3 linked regions of the Homo sapiens genome follow. The protein of the gene in region 1 interacts with the protein of each later gene in a biochemical or structural test. Each region holds a gene or a part of one and is shown on either strand. Other genes may lie near its edges.

Region 1 (3,754 bases):
AATGCCAATTTGGTGCTCACTACAAGAATCCGAGAGAGAATGATGTCTTGGACCTGGGTGATAGCATTAGATGAGGTGGGAGATGGCTGGATTTTGTATGTATTTTGATGTGGAACCAACAGAAATTGCTGATGGCGCAAAGATTTGGAGTACTAGTCTGCTAGGGCTGCCATAACCAAAGTACCACAGATTGAGTGGCTCAACAGAAATGAATTGTCTCATAATCCTGGGGGCTAGAAGTCAGACAGCAAGGTGTCAGCAGGGCTCATTTCTTCTGAGGGCCACGAGGGAAGGTTCTGTTCTACGCCCCTCTGCTTGGCTTGTAGATGGCTGTCTTCTCCCTGCCTCTTCACATCATCTTCCCTCTCTCTGTATGTTTTGGAATCCAAACCTCTTCTTTTTATAAGTACACCAGTCATTTTGGATTTGGGCCCATTTTGATGGCCTCAACTTAATCACTTCTGTAAACACTAGATCTTCAAATGTGGTCATAGTCTGAGCTACTGGGGATTAGACTTTAACATATGAATTTTTGGCGGGACACAATTCAGCCCATAACATAGAACATGAGAAAAGTAGAAGAATCCAGGATGACACCAGGATTTTTGACCTGGTGGAGTCATCGTTTGCTGAGATGGGAGGACTCTGGCAGAATATCAGTTCAGTTTGAATATGTTAAATTTGGGATGCCCCATAGATATCCAACTGCAGATGTTGAGTAAGTAGCCAAAAGCTCATATCTGGGGTTTGGCCGAGAGGTTGGAGCTGGAGATACAAATCTGGGGGTCATTGGCATAGAGATGCTATTAAAAGCTAGGAGACTGGGCAAGATGGTGACGGGAGTGAGTGGCGGTATGAAAGAGGATTAAGAACCGAGGCCCAGAGCACTCCTACATTAACAGGTCAAAAGAAGAAAACAAAACTGAGAGGGAGGGTGAGAAGGAGGTTGGGGTACCCCAGGGTGGTGTCCTGGAAGCCAAATGAAGACAATAGTTTACACAAGTGAGGGCAGGAAAGATGAGGATTCATAATTGCCCACTGCAGTTATATCATGAGGTTCACAGACCACTTTGATAAGAGTAGCTTTAATGGAGTATTGAGGCAATGTGAATGTTCAAGAGAGAATCAGAGGAGAGGAATTGGGGAAAACAAACAGTGATAACGTTTCTGAGCAATTTCGCTAAAAGCAGAAGTAGAGAAATGGTAAAGACAGAAACATGTATTTTAATCTGTAATTAATGAATACTAGATTTATGTGCATCAGGGTCATATACAAAAATGTAGCAGTATGTGTCATATATACATATATGTGTATGTGTATGTATATATACATATGTATACATACACATACATATACATACGCATACACATATATACATATATACACATACACATATACATATATACAGGTAGGCACATACTAAATATATAAAATGACCAGATTAGCTAAATGCTGCTACTAAGTATTTTCCTGGGAATGGCAGAAATGACTTCATTGGTAAAAACAACAACTATTTTCTTAGTCAATCCAGTATTAATTTATTGAAAGTTTCTTTATTTACAGGTTTAAGAAGTTTGATGATAAATATCTGCGGAAGCTTTTGATTCGGGAAAACCAACCAAAGTCAAGTATTGTATCTTTATATAAAAAGCTTGAAATAAAACATGCCATTGAGATGGCAGAGACTGGGATGATAAGTACTGTCCCTACATTTGCATCTCTAAAGTAAGTATGGTCTTGCAAATAAAAGTTAGTATTGTTAAATAGGCATTGATAGTATTTTGAAACTGGTAATAATAATTTTAAAAAAATTATTATTAATTGATCCGCCCCCCTCGGCCTCCCAGAGTGCTGGGATTACAGGCATGAGCCACTGTGCCCAGCTGCAAATACTGAATCATTTTTCTATGGGGACATAAAGGTTAGGTTCCTTTGAGCCTGTGGTCACAAAATTTTCATCAGCCAATCAATATGTAACCTATTTTATGTATGTTTATGTTTACAGACACCTTATTTAATATATATTGCTAATTCATTAACATTGAATTGATGGTCAAGAACACTATAAATTCATGTATGATCAAGCTTAGTTAACAAATTTTCTCCATAAGGCACATCACAGGGTTCTTGTGCTTGGGAACTCTAGACAGCACTTCAGCAATGCCTGGGGGCCATTTAAAGCAGCAGAACCACCAATAAATAACATAAAAATATTAAAAAATCATGTCACTAAATAGACTGTGAGAAGGACATTATTTATAGTATGAGAGTGGAAACAAGAAAGCAGATGTCTCCTTGTTCAACATCTTCAGGGAAACTGTGTCAAGTGACTCAAATTTTTTGTCACTCTCCATATGTCTGAGAATAACTGCAAAAATACTGAAATTCTGATATTGGGTTTATAAATCAATATTAGCAAGTAGGTGAGGTGAGTTCATGATTATGGAACCCACAAATGAGGATTGACTGGATATACATACATGTTATAAATGGTGTGTTTGCAAATATTTATGATGAGGTTTTTAAAATATGAAAACTTAATGGTAAATTGAAGTCAATTAGGTTTCTGTTGGAGAAAACTATTCTATTTTACTTTATTTATGGAGTGTTAGAAATAATAAAGTGAGGTAGCATTATAAGCCATTGTAGTTTTTCTTCCCTGAAAACATAATGACATGAATAGATTCTGAAAACTTGTGAATTGTTAAACTTGCCATGAATGATTTTGAAACTGAAATAAGAGTCACAGAATTTGGAATTATTTTAAGTTATTGAATAATCCCTAAGTGCTATTTTTACAAATTAAGACTTGTCTTAAATACTTATATCTCTAAGGAAGAAAATCAATGATTCTAATATTTGTTGAAAGGTAAAATATTCTTTTTCTAAACTTTCACAGTGATTGTCGTGAAGAAAAAATAAGGAAGGTCACGTCCAGTGAAACTGATGAAATTCGAGAACTCTTATCAAGAAATCTCTATCAAATCCGTCAGCGAGTAAGAATAATTTATGTAGCAAAATATTTACTTACCTTTGGCTAACAGGATGCCTTCTGGTTTTGTGCTGTAACTGGAGGCTGCATCTTGACACTGGGCTCAGCAGGTCCCATGCTGGGCATCTTCTCTCCTTCTGCTTCTCTCCATCCCTCTTCAGGGTCCTACTATCCTCCTGGACACCATGGCTGAAGCCTTGGGGTCCCCTGGGAGTTCTGCTGCTGTGGGCTTGGATACAAAGAAATACACGTTGACTAATTTTAAAGAAATGAATTGATTGCTGTTTGTTTTAAAGAAATAGTTTTATAGCTTAGACTTTAAAAATGGACCTCACCCTCCTTGTTATTTATAAAGTGCTATAGTTTCTTCTCTTCTGAGCCACTTCTTTCACTTCGTTTCCATTGTTAGCACCTTATTCTAATAATTTGCTAACAACACAGCTACAGAGTAGAGAGTGTCCTCAATTTTCCAAGCCCCATTTCAGTGTGTTGCATGCATTAACTCATTTAATCCTCCAGTGAGTGGTAGGTGTTACTGTTGTCGCCATTTCACAGATAAAGAAATTGAGGCACAGGGAGGTGAAGTGGCACACGGGCCACACAGCTTGTCAGGAGTCCTCCTTGCTCATGTGGGGGCTGTTTCAGCAGCTTCTTAGCTGGTGTCCCCATAAGGTGTCCCCATTTCATCCACGTGACTCTTACCTGACCCTTTTTCCTACAGTACCTTTTAATTTAAAATGAAACAAAACATTAGTTGTGGC
Region 2 (3,754 bases), on another chromosome or scaffold:
GAAAAAAGTAAGGTCAGCATCAAGAGATGGGCTTCAAGGCTGACTGAGAAAAGGGACATTCATGGGGCTGACAAAATTTTCCTATCACAGCCATATTCCAACATACAAAGCAGCTCCAGTGATTTAGCTCTTAGACGGGCATATCCAAAATGTTACTGAGTACAAAGGACAACATCACTAGGTTAGACAAGTGCACGACAATCATAAAAATAACTCTAAGGCCGGGCACGGGGACTCACGCCTGTAATCCCAACACTTTGGGAGGCCGAGGCGGGTGGATCACCTGAGTTCTGGAGTTTGAGACCCGCCTAGACAATATGGTGAAACCCTGTCTCTACTAAAAATACAAAAATTAGCTGGGCGTGGTGGCACGCGCCTGTAATCCCAGCTACTCAGGAGGCTGAGGCATGATAATCCCTTGAACCCGCCTGGAGGTTGCAGTGAGCCGAAAATGCACAGTGATCAGGCCATTGCACTCCAGCCCGGACTCTGTCGCAAAAAAACAAAACAAGCCAGGTGCGGTGGCTCACGCCTGTAATCACAGCACTTTGGGAGGCTGAAGCGGGCAGATCACCTGAGATACGGAGTTCGAGACCAGCCTGACCAACATGGAGAAGCCCTGTCTCTACTAAAAATACAAAATTAGCTGGACACGGTGGCGCATGCCTGTAACCCCAGCTACTAGGGAGTCTGAGGCAGGAGAATCGCTTGAACCCGGGAGGCGGAAGTTTCGGTGAGCTGAGATGGCGCCTTTGCACTTCAGCCTGGGCAGAAGAGCAAAAACTCCGTCTCAAACAACAACAACAACAACAAACAAACAAAACTCTAGTTCTTCAAACTAGAACCTCAGCTTGCAGGGAACGTGTGGGGCCTCAGGCTAAGCTGTAAAGCCTTAGGTAACACTTAAAACTAGTAACTTAAGTTGACCTGGGAAAGCCTGCTACGACAAAAATATCCTGGTACTTGGGTACTAACAGCAGTCAGAATTCGGTTCTTCCTTATCTTATACGTGTTCTAACCAAACAGGTGTGAAGGGGTAAGGCAGGTGAAGCAGTAAGAACTGGTTCACCTGAGAGTAGGCACTAATTTAACGGGTGGCTTTTACCTTTTTTTTTTTTTTTTTTTGAGACGGAGTCTTGCTCTGTCACCCAGGCTGGAGAGCAATGCCGCGATCTCGGCTCACTGCAACCTCCGCCTCCCGGGTTCAAGCGATTCTCCTGCCTCAGCCTCCCGAGTAGCTGGGATTACAGGCACGCGGCACCACACCCGGATAATTTTGTATTTTTATTAGAGATGGGGTTTCTCCATATTGGTCAGGCTGGTCTCGAACTCACGACCTCAGGTGTTCTGCCCACCTCGGCCTCCCAAAGTGCTGGGATTACAGGCGTGAGCCACCGTGCCAGGCCTACCTTTTTAATCAAAACAAACAATACACCATGAGAATAAAATGCAAAATTTCTCATTTTTAAGACAAAATAAGGAACTTCAAATAAATGGCGGACCATAAGCTAGGAATTCACTGTCCTCCATCGTTAGGGCTTTTTCCTCCGAAGGAAGTTTGGGAAATCTGGATCCTAATTTCAGCCAAGTGGTGCGTTCCTCGAACTTCAGTCTAGAACTAAAAGAAGAGGGGCTGCAATGAAGGAAGAAGTCTCGGGACGCTCCACGCCACCCGGCGGCGGTTATCAAATCACAGGCTGAAAACCTGGAGAAAGGTCCGCGACGCCGGGGACACACGCCGCAGAGGCGACGCCCGCCCGGCCCAACGTCCAGTCTCGTCTGTTTCCCGAGGAGCCAATCAGCACGCGGCCCCGAGGCCGGCTCCCCAGCGCCCCCTGCGGCCGGGAGGAGGACGGCAGCCAGGAAAGATGAAGAGCGCGTGCAGTCCCCGAAGGGTACACCCTAGGGTTCCCCCCCACGCGAAGTTTCTCTCCGCAATCCGTGCCACCTATCGAGTAGGATTCCTAGTGTTCGATTCCTGTGAGAAAAGGTAGACTACGCTGCCTGTCGCAGGTTAGTTTGTTGTAAAACTGTTGGTCAATGACGTTGCCCTTTTAATTGCGTCGTTAGCGACCGAGTGGCATCGCCCCTTTAAGGCCGGTGGCAGCTGCGGTTCCGGGGGCGGGGTCCGTCTTCAGCAGGACTTGGGCTGGAGCTGGGCTGATTCATTCGGGGCTGGAACTCGAACGCTGACGTTGGCTCCTGAGCCGGGCGCTGCCTCGCGCCTGATTGGCGGGTCCTCGGGGCCGCCCTCCCCAGCGCACCACCCCTGGGTTCCCTCCCGGGTCCGCAGTGGAAACACTGCCCTCTCCCTTCTTGACCCCTAGCCCTTCCTTCCCTCCCTCCTTCCCTCCTGTCGCCGTCTCTTCTGGCGCCGCTGCTCCCGGAGGAGCTCCCGGCACGGCGATGGGTTCTCGGGCCTCCACGTTACTGCGGGACGAAGAGCTCGAGGAGATCAAGAAGGAGACCGGCTGTGAGTTCGGGTTGGGGGTGGGAACGCCGGGCGCCTCAGGCTGGCCTCACAACCAAGGGCGGCTGTCGCTAAGGTCTGGAGCTCGGGTGCCTGTGAGGTTGGGGGGTCCTGGGCAGCCTCCAGGTTTGGGGACCGAGAGCTGGAAGACCTGTTCTTCCAGCTGCAGCTTCCTGGAGCGGGGCTCTAGCTACTGTGGGGCTGTCCTTCCCTTCAAAATCGGGACTCTTGATCACTCGTAGAGCGTCGACGCCCCCCTTTTCTGCACCCTGCCCATCAAAGTCCCCGAACTCCTTTCCTTTCTGTTGCCTCGCACCACCCTTCCCTATGAAGAGGCATCCTGAACAGTAGGTAAAGCCCGAGAAGCAAATTCAGGAACTCGAGATGGATTCTGTAGAAAATCCGTTTCTGGGTAAGGACCTAAAACCTCTGACAACTATGGGAAATTACAAACAAGTTCTTGTCACAAATTGGGAAAACCACCCAGAAAGCAAGACCGTGTAGTAAGGCTTTGGGAGACATGACCCGATGCCTGGAGACCTTTAAACAATCAGGGGTCTGGGATTGTGAGACTTCTTTCAATCTGAACTTCTAGAGAAAAAACACGGATACTGTGACCACCAGTTTTTTACTTACACGACGATACTTGCTGTCCTAATCTCATATATGTATTGATTTCTACTATGCTGGTGTACTTTTTTATTCGCTATTGAAATTGGATGTGCTCCAAAAATCTCCGTGTGAATTTGTACTAGGAACTGATTTTTTTTTTTTTTTTTTTTGAAACGGAGTCTCCCTCTGTCAACCAGGCTGGAGTGCAGTGGCGTGATCTCGGCACACTGCAACTTCCGCCTCCCAGGTTCAAGCAGTTCTCCTGCCTCAGCCTCCCAGGTAGCTGGGAGTACAGGTGCCTGCCACCACGCTTGGCTAATTTTTGTATTTTTGGTAGAGATGGGGTTTCACTATGTTGGCCCGGCTGGCCTCGAACTCCTGACCTCAAGTGATCCACCCACCTCGGCCTCCCAAAGTGCTGGGATTACAGGTGTGAGCCACCGTGCCCTGCAGAACTGATTTTTTTTTTTATAGTCCAGTCTCTTCCTCATTAGTCTGAACAAAGGAGCAAAAGGACTCGGGATTCTGAAGCGCTGTAAAATACCATCATAACTTTGAATAGTCCTTGATAATGCAATGTATGATACAATTGTATTGATGCATACAATATTTTATCTTTTCAGTAAACCTTTATGATTCTTATTGAGTTAATGAAGGATGTAGCACCTGAGC
Region 3 (3,754 bases), on another chromosome or scaffold:
ACATATACATGTAAACTTATATATATATACACATCACAAACTTAAGTATTTTCTTAAGTAAATAAAAGTAAAACCGCTTCCTTTCCTTCCTCAATCCTCCGAAATAATCTTGTATAATGATATTACATATGCATATATATGTATAAATAATGATAGCTCAACATTATTTTATATGCTCTGCTACTTTATTTTTGTGTTTTTTCATGAAGAAAGAGTGCCCCATTAACATGAGTAATCAGTGTACTGCATGGTACAGAAGCTACTATATAAATGGCAATAGCTTCACTGCCCATTGTGTATTTAATTTCTCCAAACACACAAAAACACACTCTCTCTTTCTCTCTCAACCCTCCATTTCAATAGACTTGTAAGGGGTGGGTCCAGAGGGGAGAGGAAACTGTTCAGAATATGTTACTCCAGGAACATGCCAACCTCTGTTTTCTCACAATGCCCCATCTCCTTCATATCCATCTACTAATGGCCAGAAGTTATTCTTAAGGATAAGAACCCTTTGCACGGAGTGAATATTTTGCTCCCACCTCACCTCGGCACACTCATTGGCATATTGGTTCACTTCAACAACTCTCCCTTCTTTAGCTACCAGCTCCACTTGGAAGTCTTCAAATTTCTTATGCAGAACTTCGGTGCGCTCCCAGTCTTCACCTAGCTCCACTGATGTCGCTATAGCCTCCTGTAGACACAGAAGTTGATTGAGTTGCCAGCAAACATTTAGGAGTTTCTGTAGGTCAAAAACTCAAAACTCCTGCTTGCATTCCCAGGATAACTCAAATGGAGATACTGGGGGAGACTGGGAGAAGCTCTCCTGGAAAAGGCCAGCAGCAGAAGTATATTTGTTAAGGTAGCACCTTGGCACAAGGGAAAGTGCTCTTTCGGGCAGTTCTTTAGCAAGTTTGTGGCATTACTGGCAAGAGACCCTGAAAGTACCCTTTTGTGTTTTGAAACATGAGGGATAAATTCATCCTGTTTCTACTCAATTCAACATATCAGTATCTACGAAAGTATTTTGTTAGGCATTTGCTTATCTAAATCTTTAGTCCTAACTATTAAATTATTCCTTTAGTATTTAGAAAAATAAAACCCTCCATCTTTATAGGCACTGAGACACAAAGGATTAGAGAAAGAGCTGTCAATACTCTCAGCCAGACCCCAGAGTAAGAGCAAAAACATAGGAGAAGGAGTTAAAAATCATGGAAGTGGAAGAGAGATGAGCCTAATTATCTTTCAATGCATGGTCTTTGTGTAAGTCTTGCCTTTTTCATATTCAGATCCATATGTTAAGACTTACTTCCATACAATGTTGACCTCCAGATACCCCTACATTTTGGCCCCAATTTCCTCTTGTTCCAAAGAACAAAGCCAGGAACAGACATCCTGACTTCCTTGTGAGTAGTCTGCAGTAATTTGCTATGGGGTACCTGGGACAGAGGAGTGGGAGGCCCTGTGTGATTGCTGTTTTAAGTTCGATACCTTGTCTCCAATCCACTCTAAGATGTCAGCACACTCCTGTACATACTGCTGGAACTTCAGGGCCCGCAGCAACTGGTCACCCTTCTCCAGGGTCAGCTCTAACAGCAGGTCCCACAGGTGGCGTAGCTCCTCTATATGGGCCTTTAGGAAAGAGGGGCAAAACCACTCAGCCACAGACACTGGGAGCAGGGAAACACTCAGAGACTTGTGCAGAAAGAGACCTGGATAAAAATTCTTCTCTCAGTTACTCATGCATTAGTTGCTCAACAAACATTTAAAAGAGGAAATAGGATAGATATATGGAAATAGCTAACAAGCCAAGCCAAATGCGATCTTACATAAGAGAACAATTTGTAAAAATGCTTTGCAGTTTTAAAGGATGGAATAATTACAAACAATAAGATGGGAAGGAGGAAGAAAGCATGGAAAAGTGTTCATTTGAACTGAGCCTTATGGAGCAGAAAGATTTTTGACAGGTCAATCATAAGCATAACATGTTCTAAGAAGAGCAAACAGCAATAGCAAAGGCATAGGAGAAACTTAGCATGAATTGTCTGCCAGAAAGTGTGAGAGCTATAATTTTTATAAGTTATAAGGAAATCATTGGCACCGAAACAATAACAGTGTTTTGGGACTATACAGTTTGAGAATCTACAGAGGGCTTTGAATGCCAGATTAACTCAGAACATTATGTATTACCTGTCTTATATAACTGAAATTGCCACCTATGTCATATCTTCAAGAATCTTATATTTTTCAACTACTCCATTGCTCTGGGTAGCATGTGGACCACATATGTCGTTAAACCCCGCAATGGTACCATTTGCTATAGCCCCAGTGATTCTGACAGAAATGAAGATGTTTCAAACATTTCTCAAATATTGTAATTAATGTAGATGCTGGTTACATGCAAAACTGTGCATAATACAAAAGTTAATTATACTTTATACAAATAAACAAGTTTTGAAATTTTCCTTTTATGGGTTCTTCTTTAAAATAAGATTCTATTCTGGCTAAAATCTGTGTCCGTTGACCATATTTTGATGACAGAATGGGCTAGAATTTTTATGCTATATATAGAAAGGCCAGACCCAGTTTTAAGATATATAATGCAAATTTGTTTTGACAATTAAAAAAATACATAAACAGTAAAAAGTTCACTCACACACAAAAAAATTGAATTGACAATATTAGCACAAACATTTGGAAGAGTTCGTAGATTAAGTCCAAAAATAGCTGTTACATTAATAATAGATTACAGAGTATGAATCCTTATTGAAATAGTGATGATCTTCATTTCTAGATGTTCAGAGAAAATTTTCTGACTACATGACATTTGGGAGTTTTTAGAAGTAATAAGAAGGGACAGTTTGGAGAGGTGCAATAGTAGTCATAGGGTATGGTGTATGAAAAGAAAGAGGCATCATAGACAAAGGAAAAATATTTTGGAAAACATTCAAATGAGAGAGCATTCCTTATTTGGAGAAGTTAAGAGACAAGGACATTGAGGTTAGAGGAAATAATTAGAAAGAACATTGGAAAAAACTAATTGATCTGGATAATGTGGAACAGGTTTAAGTGGGCTTGATCTTGAGCCAAATTATCCTGCACTGTTATAGGAGGAATTTTATGCCATTTAATGACAGCTTTAATATCACAGCTCTCTTCACCCCAAGAAACACGAAGATATCCCATCATTTTTTATGCCTCAACCCCAGGGGAAGATAAGAGGCAGGAGTCCTGGGTATAAGCCAGCCACTCAAGGTTTATATCTCATATAATCAGTTAAAACCCTGATAACATAATCAATAATTGGAAACTTCTTCAAGGGCCCATACATATACCTTCGTTTCTTCGTGGGCAGAATGACCCATGGTAAATCGTTCTTCCCTTGTTTTTTCCAGTTCAGACATGAGTCTTGATTTTGTTTGCACCTCTGCTTCAAGGGATTGATGCTTCTGATATTTCCCCTAAAGTTTAGAAATCAGAGTTTTTGTCTAATGAAGCACAGTCTTCATGGGAAATGTTCACTCTATGTAAAGCCACCAAACACAGGTTCTCAAAGGGTCCCAGACTCAGAGGCCATAAAGAGTATTTTCCTGTCCCCACTGGCTTTAGGAAGTTTTCAGTAAATACTGTCCTGAGCTATGCTGAGCCTTATGATCTATGCCGAGCCTTATTTTAAAGGCTCAATAGACTGCCATAGGAATAAAAGAGTGTAACACACAGTGTCCTTCCTCATCAGAAAAGAGGAATAACTGATTTT

Evidence for each region.
Region 2: the proteins of SLC9A2 (region 1) and CHP1 form a complex in vitro, tested with the Homo sapiens proteins (one study listed by BioGRID).
Region 3: the proteins of SLC9A2 (region 1) and SPTA1 form a complex in vitro, tested with the Homo sapiens proteins (one study listed by BioGRID).

What each region holds. Positions count from the first base shown.
Region 1 is NC_000002.12:102,699,506-102,703,259, forward strand, and holds part of SLC9A2 (sodium/hydrogen exchanger 2 precursor), read left to right. Parts: intron 1-1,564; coding exon 1,565-1,726; intron 1,727-2,900; coding exon 2,901-2,997; exon of another isoform or gene 2,998-3,222; intron 3,223-3,754.
Region 2 is NC_000015.10:41,228,977-41,232,730, forward strand, and holds the start of CHP1 (calcineurin B homologous protein 1), read left to right. Parts: upstream 1-2,291; 5' UTR 2,292-2,406; coding exon 2,407-2,473; intron 2,474-3,754. UniProt on the Homo sapiens protein: Calcium-binding protein involved in different processes such as regulation of vesicular trafficking, plasma membrane Na(+)/H(+) exchanger and gene transcription. Involved in the constitutive exocytic membrane traffic.
Region 3 is NC_000001.11:158,680,039-158,683,792, forward strand, and holds part of SPTA1 (spectrin alpha chain, erythrocytic 1), read right to left. Parts: intron 3,459-3,754; coding exon 3,333-3,458; intron 1,630-3,332; coding exon 1,489-1,629; intron 692-1,488; coding exon 545-691; intron 1-544.